Homo sapiens: one gene and its partner. The protein of the gene in region 1 interacts with the protein of each later gene in a pairwise test. Each region holds a gene or a part of one and is shown on either strand. Other genes may lie near its edges. The genes, in order: ACVRL1 and PEG10.

What was found.
Region 2: the proteins of ACVRL1 (region 1) and PEG10 interact in a two-hybrid assay, tested with the Homo sapiens proteins (one study listed by BioGRID).

What each region holds. Positions count from the first base shown.
Region 1 is NC_000012.12:51,917,232-51,921,150, reverse strand, and holds part of ACVRL1 (activin receptor type-1-like isoform 1 precursor), read right to left. Parts: intron 3,609-3,919; coding exon of another isoform or gene 3,453-3,608; intron 2,167-3,452; coding exon 2,036-2,166; coding exon of another isoform or gene 1,928-2,035; exon of another isoform or gene 1,164-1,927; intron 393-1,163; coding exon 258-392; 3' UTR 1-257. UniProt on the Homo sapiens protein: Type I receptor for TGF-beta family ligands BMP9/GDF2 and BMP10 and important regulator of normal blood vessel development. On ligand binding, forms a receptor complex consisting of two type II and two type I transmembrane serine/threonine kinases.
Region 2 is NC_000007.14:94,666,077-94,669,995, reverse strand, and holds the end of PEG10 (retrotransposon-derived protein PEG10), read right to left. Parts: 3' UTR 301-3,919; downstream 1-300.

The DNA of each region.
Region 1 (3,919 bases):
GCACCATGCTGGCCATAGGGGTGGGGAGAGAGCCAGGCGTCAGGGAGCCTGCCGCTTTGAGCAGGCCAGACAGCAGGGGATCAGGTTTCAGCCCAGCTGTATTTTTGGCTGGGTGGGCTGGGGGCCGAGCAGGCAGGCGCAGCTGCCCATCCCCAGCACACACCACACTCACACTACCTCTACCCAGATAGGGCACCATCCACTGCCCCCCACCCCCCCAGCCCCCTGCAGGCAGAAAGGAATCAGGTGCTCCTGGGCTATTGAATCACTTTAGGCTTCTCTGGACTGTTGCTAATTTTTTGTAGTGTCTTCTTGATCCGCAGCGCGGTGAGTCGGGCAGAGGGGTTTGGGTACCAGCACTCCCGCATCATCTGAGCTAGGCCTGAGAGGACCTGGGGGTTGGGAGAGAGGTGCAGAGGAGAGGAGGCAGAGAGAGAGATGCAGAGAAGAGGAGGGGGTCGGGAGAGAGATGCAGAGGGAGGTGGGTCAGAGAAGATGGGAAGAAGATGAGGAGGATGGCCGGTAATGGGGAGACATAAGCAGGAGAGAAAGGATGAGAGGAGGGAGATGAGAGCATTGGAAAGGAGAGCGAGAGGAAAGACAAGTGGTGAGAGAGAGAACAGAGGATGACAAAAAAATAAAAAATGGAAGAGGAAGAGAGTAGAGTGAGAAAGGGATGGAGAAAGACAGGGCGGACAGAAAGAGAGAACTCAGATCTTCAGGAGCACTCAAGCCCCCTTGGGCAAGCAGTGTCTGTGAAACACCTTACCCCCATCCCCACCTTTGCCAAGATCCATAGGAAGGGGCCGATTCTTCAAGCCTGGGGGCTCCCACATCCCCATCCACAGCCTAAGACCCCAGTGCAGAGGGCAGTGTCTTCCAGCCCCTCCATCAGCCATGGCTGGGCCCAGGGGACTGTGGAAGTGGGAACTGCCCTAAAAATGCAAGTGTCCAGGGAGCAACCCATCCCAAAAAGCTCATCAACCCATCCCAGGAAGCTCATCAACCCATCCCAGGGCCTGAAATGAGCTGGCCCCACTTCTGGCTCCTGAAAGTGAGTGTATGTGTGTGTGTACAGGAATGCATACATGTGGCTTTTTGCGGATATGTTGTACAGAAATGTATGTCTATGTACACATAGATGTATACATGTATAGAATATATTCATTCTTTCAGTAAATATTTATTAGCACCTATTGTGAGCCAGATACTATGATAGGTAATAGGGACATAAGGGTGAGCAAAAGACACGTTCTTTGTCCTCACGGGGCCAACAGTCTGGCATATATGCGCATGTGTATATTTCTGTGAGTGTATGTTCAGAAGGATATTCACGCTTGTATGTGTTGATATACGTGTGTGTGTCTTTGTACAAGTGAAGTGTTTTGAGAAAAAACAAGGACAAACAACAACAAAACAGCAACAAACAAAGACAAATAGCAACAAAAATACCACAGTGGTCAGGTGTGGAGGCTCACACCTATAATCCCAACACTTTGGGAGGCTGAGGCAGGAGGATCACTTGAGCCCAAGAGTTTGAGATAAGCCTGAGCAACATAAAAGACCTTGTCTCTACAAAAAATTTTAAAAATTAGCCAGGTGTGGTGGTGTGCACTACACCTAGCTACTGGGGAGGCTGAGGCAGTAGGATCAGTTGAGCCGAGGAGTTTGAGGTTACAGTGAGCTATGACTGTGCCACTGCACCCCAGCCTGGGTGACAAGAGCAAACAAAACCCTGACTCTCAAACACACACACACACACACACACACACACACACACACACACAGAGCCACAGATAGCCTCTGACTTTTCACAGGGAAGGTGAAGGTTCTTAAAATCCCAGAATGACCAGATGGCCCTGGGGGCAGGGAGCATGGGCCAGGGTTGAAAGAGGGAGTACCTAGAGAGGTGCCCTAACCAGGACACTCAGTATCTATGAGATGAAGCAGAGGCCTCAGACACAAGTTCCTGGGCCCAGAAATCCCAGCCATGAGCCACCACCCCACGCCATCCTAGTCCCAGCAGAGGCCTCACCGGGTCTGCAGCCAGCCGGTTAGGGATGGTGGGGGTCTGCTGATCCACACACACCACCTTCTTCATGTCCTCAAAGCTGGGGTCATTGGGCACCACATCATAGAAGGGTGGTCTATAGTCCTCCACGATGCCTGGAAATGGAGAATGGACAGGACAATCACTTGGGACTCTAAGGAGGCCCAATACCACCCAGAGGAGAGCCTTTTCTACCCTCTATCCAAGGGCCAGAAACCAGTGGCCTGGACACGCTACCCCTGAGAGGGACAGTATAATGCAATAAATGTGTTTCTAACTAATGTTAATGACTGCCATTTGTTTTGCACATGGCATGTGCCAGATATTCTGCTGTAAACACTTTACATGCTTTATCCTGTTTGTCCTCACAACAGCCCTGTGGGGTGGGTACTAGTATTACCTCCATTTTACAGATGAAGAAACTGATGCTCAGAGAAGGGGGGCCCAAGGTTCCACAGCTAGTAATGGCAGAGGCAAGACTCAAACCCATCTCGGATTCCTAGGCCAGCCTTGTTCCAGTCTTCCCTCAGCTGCCTTCCACCCAGTGCCCGGGACTGCTCCCAGGCCCCAACTATCACACATGCCTGATAATAATAACACCAAATGTTTACTGAGCACTGTATGCCAGGTGCTGTCCTAAGAGCTCTGCATGAAATCCTCACAGCAGCCCTATGAGGTAGGTAATACTATGAGCTCCACTTTATAAGCCAAGAAATGAAGGCCAGAGAGTTTAAGAAACTTGTCTAAGATCAACAGATAGTAAGTGACAGGGCTAGGATTTAAGCCCACAGTCTAACACCAAAGCATGTGCTCTTGACCTCTGAGCTGCACTTATCTTTTTACCCAGGTCCACATAACATCACCCAGTGTCAGGGATGGCACAGGCCTCTGCTGACTCCTGCAGCCAGCACTGACCCCCTCCTCTTGGTATCCCAAGTTCACAGTTTTTAGTAGGAGCTTTCTGAAAACAATGCCGGTGGAGCCGCAGACAGCCCCGTGCCCCATCCTGTTTCCCAGCCTGAGGCTGGGGGCCATGGCCACACAGGCCGCAACCTCGATAGAGCCTTCGCCAGCTGTTCTCCCCATGGCCAGCTTCCAGGCCGGCCCCTGTGCCGCTCACGCCCTAATCAGTGCTGCACAGAGGCCTGAATGTGTCTAATGGGCCTTTAATCAGTGCCGGGGCTGACACCAGATTACAGTGTTTATAATGCGCCGCGAGTCCGTGTGGGGCTGATGGAGCTTCCCCCTCCACCCCAGGCAGCCTCCTCCCAGCCTTTCCTTTCTGCCCTGCAGCCTGGTCCAAGGAGCCTTGGCTTCTTCCAGGTTCCTCTTTCCCCCGATCCCGGTCTCCTTAGAGCCCACTCTGGCAATTCATGCCCGGAGTCTTGAGGAATCTAAGCACCTCGTGAGTCTCCCCAAGGGACCGGTGACACCACAGCCTCTGTTTTCAGTTGATGACCACCGAGGACAAATGAAGTCTGGCATGGGGCTGGCTCCTGGTAGATGCTCAGGAAATGAGGACATCCTTGTCCCCAAGAAGCAGGGCTCCAGCCATATCCTGAGGATTGTCCCCAACCTGTCACGACTCCTGGAAGTCCCTCACCATGGACAGCCTCCTCAAAGGTTGACAATGCTCCCACCAGTCTAGACGACCCACCTATCCTCCGTCCACTCCAGGGCTGAGAGAACATCGACCTCAGGGCTGCCTGCCCAGGGCAGGTCTCTCTACCTGTCGCAGTCCCTCTAAATCAGAGTCCCCTGTGGCAACCCACAGTAACAACCAGGCAGCAATAAGCAGGCAGTGCAGGCACTCACATGCATTGCGTGCATGAGGAAATCAAGGGCCAGAGAGGTTTAAGTGCACACAGT
Region 2 (3,919 bases), on another chromosome or scaffold:
TTTATTTTATATGTTAAACTTTTGCAGCTGGAATAACTGATTTCCTGGAGTATTCTGGCTATATAATTCATACTAGGTTGTAATCAATAATGTTCTTTATACCACCACCCCACTATCCCAAACTCAATTCCACCCCTACCCTACCCACCCTCCTACCTCCCTACCCTTCCAACAATCCCACCCTCCCCACAGCCCCACCCTACTCTAGCCTCTCCCACTCTCCCTACTCTCTCAGCCTTCCCCACCCTACCCCACCCCATTCCCTTGATGCTGGTAGATGCTGAAATGATCAGGACACAGTTTGCACTTAACCACTAAATCTTTATTGAATTTTTATTGTAACAGCAATGCAATATTAGCAAATAGAGAGAAATATAGAGTGAAGAGAATACAGCAATAAAGTTAGAAGGAGGGGTAGGGGCAATGGGGTTCAGTGGTAGGAGGAGGGCTACTGACAGGGGTAAAAGCAAGGGTTTTTATTTATCACTTTTATAACTTCCATGAAAATTTACCATCCATCATTGACAAGTTCATTCTAGCAGTAATTTATCAGAGGTCACTCATCCTCTATTAAATTATTAATCTAATCACCTTTGAACTTTCTCCCACTGGGGTTTTTATCCATGTCCAATTCGCTCTAAATAAGTTGGTCTCCCTGCAGTTCCCTCCGAGTTTATTTGAAATCTTTAAGGATAGCAATTATAGGGTAAAGGGTTACAAGTAAGTACGCATGTCCACTTATAGCGATATCTAATACATAATATTATTCTAACATTCTAAATAACCCCACCCACTTAAAATTACTTAATAGTCCCTCCCACCCTAAAATGCTTATGATTATATATCCCCTATTACTTAAACTTGATTACACAAAGAAATAAAAGCAATGCAATTTTCCACAGACCAATTCAATACCATTCTACAATCTAAAACAACAAAGAACTTTCAGTCTCATCAGATGTGCATTCTCTCTTTAGATGAAAATGTAGCATGGTTCCCGCAGGGCTCTCCATTTCTGCCCAGGTCTTTCCAGCAGGTTGTTCTCTGTTGTCAATCTTGGAACTGTCTGTATCTGATGTGAGATGTCTGTGGTGGATGACAACTGGATCAATTCAGAAGTCCAAGAGGTACCTACAAACTTAAACAGAATTCCAGACTGCACCATATAGATGTGGCCCTCTTATTTTGTGCACCTGCAAGTTCACTGTATTACTTCACGATTTGATCAGACTAATTCTCCTTTTTTCCACTAAGACAAATACCTCACTGTCCAAACTAAATTGACCCTTCATAAATGTATGTAAACTTTCTGTGTTTCAATATCCTAGCATGATAAATTTAGCTAGTTCTCTCTAGGCTTGCCTATCAATGGGAGCTCTTAGATCTTCTTCCTTCTTGATTTAATTAACAATGTAAATTTGGGCTAAAAGTCAATTAATTAATTTTGCCAGTTTGAAAAACTCGACTACTGATTTGCTTACTAATTCATCTATCTCCTTTATGTTTTTTATTTTGCTCCCTTTCTAACTTCTTTAGATATCAAATTCCATTGATTTTTTTCCTTTCTTATGAATAAAGCCATTTTTGTTGGAAAATGCCAAAAAAAATTTAAAGGATCCAATTAACATAAATTTGATTAACAACAAAATAAATCAATTGAGTGAAAGGAAACTTAACCAAACTTCAAAACTATAGAATAATAAATTTAGAATTACTTATCCTTAACATCTACATTTATAGATAGCATATATAGCAATAGAGCATAGTACACACTGCCAAAAAGTTAATCACAAGCTTTAGTAAACAGCCAAATGTGGATCAGGGACTTTCTGAGTTGTTAACCCACAGCAGCATATTTTCCCTAATCGTTCTTGTCGTTGGTGAACTTCTCCAGACTTTTGCTTGCAGTGGTGGCAAATGTCCGTGTGCACATGCCAGGGCTACAGACAACGGCCCATTTCTAGGCACCCTGCAGCTTGAAGATCAATTGACAACTGTAAATTTGACAAAAAAACAACTTGAATTCAAATGTATGGAGGATGAATTGATACTTGAGGTAAACAGAAGTGACTCTTCAAAATAGTTCAGAAGCACAAATGCACCATTTTAAAAGTAATTACTCTAAAACACATGAGTGATTGACAAGCTTTCTGATTCCATTGAAGGAAAAAAAAAGTTGTTTTGGATTAAATAGCCAATTAGGTTTCTCTTTTCAAATTTTATATCCTTTTATATGATTTTTAAAGGCCCAATTGATAGAATTGAAATTATATATGATGTTAAAATTGAAGATGAACAGGATGAATTATTATACAAATGCTCCAGTTCTGAGGAGCCTCTCATTCACAGCATTGTAAGAAGTTCACAGTAAAGGAATATTTTACACTATGTTACTTATCATTTTTACTTAGTTTAACAATAAGAACTGGATAGTGCTTTGTAATTCAATGGAAGTTTTTGAAAGCCTAGTCACCACTTCAAAACACACTAAAAATTATACTAAAAATTTTAAGTGTTTAAACATGCAAGAATAAGAGCAGATGATAATGAACATGTGAAAGATGATGCTGATGAAAAGTGAAACTTCACCGTTAGACTCCTCTTCATGTCAGGCAATTTGAGATATACACCATGTTGTTTTCTACTGCTCAAACTGTGCTTTGGCAATTAAAGCCTGCCTCTTACATCTCTGTGTGTGGCAGCAAAATGGAGTCTCAGCAACCAGGCAGGAAAATGACACAAATCCTGCAGCAGGGTCAATGGCAGTAGCAAAGAATTAAACAGAAAAAGAGAGGTTAGATAAAACAGTTCAAGGTAGTAGCAAGGGACCAGGCTAAAGGAAGTCAGGCAGTCCCAGGTTAGCACAAAGCTTCCAGGGGACATCAGAGGTGTCACTGGGCTGAAGACAACTCTTGTGTTGTCCGTTGCTTTGAGTCCTTTGAGTTGCTTTCTGAGGCTTTTCATCCATTGGCAGCTTCACATCAGCTCCATCCTCTAGAGGGACCTTTTTCATTACGTGGATTCTGATCCTTTTGAAGTGGTTACCATCAAGTAATGTGGAGCTCACTAAGGAAGTCCACATCCTCAAGACAGTGTCCACAGCCCTAATTCCTCTTCTTCAAAGATGTCCCCCTTCCAGGCATAGGAGTGTGAATCTGGGTGCTAAATCATTTCTCCTCTCTCCACACATCCTAATGCTACAGTCTAATGAGGGGACTGAAGATGAAATGCCCAGATGCATATGGAGGCAGACACATGGATAGATTCTTCCAAAACGTCAGCTGGTGCTTTTCCAGCCAATTAAGAACACTCATGAAAATTCTTTCTGAAGTACCAGGACAAATCTCTTAAGAGTTGGGTATGGGATTTTGGAGTCCTTTTGATGTGCTACTCTTTAGCCCTCAAAGGTGATTGAGAGGTGGTCACATTTCATGAACATCTAACAACGCTGGAGCCACCAGTAATCTCTGGTTACCAGGTTTAATGCTTTGTGGAAGCCATCATGGCATGATGATGGTAAGGTGTTGTGTCAAAGCCGGAGTCATTGGGTACATGTGATTTGCACCATGATGTGAAGACATAGTCTTAACATGCAAGAGTCCATCTGAGAGAGCACTTTCTTTTCAGGCCTGAGATGTTTCATGTCACAAGGGTTTTTCCTGCTCCTGGGAGAACCAGTCGAGTTGCTGCTCCTTGAGAATTAACAGAACCATGGAAATGGAGTTTGAAGACGGTGAAGTTTCTAAGGGTGCAGCGAGAGGATCACGGAAGCCTTTCCACACTGCACCGATAATTTTGGCTTCCTTAATAAGGCCTCAGTCCTCCAGTGATTTAAAAAGAGGGTACCGAAACCGCAAGAAAAGTCATGTCCTCCTCCTCCTCGTCTCCCCCTCCATAAAGAAATCAGCATTTCCTGCGT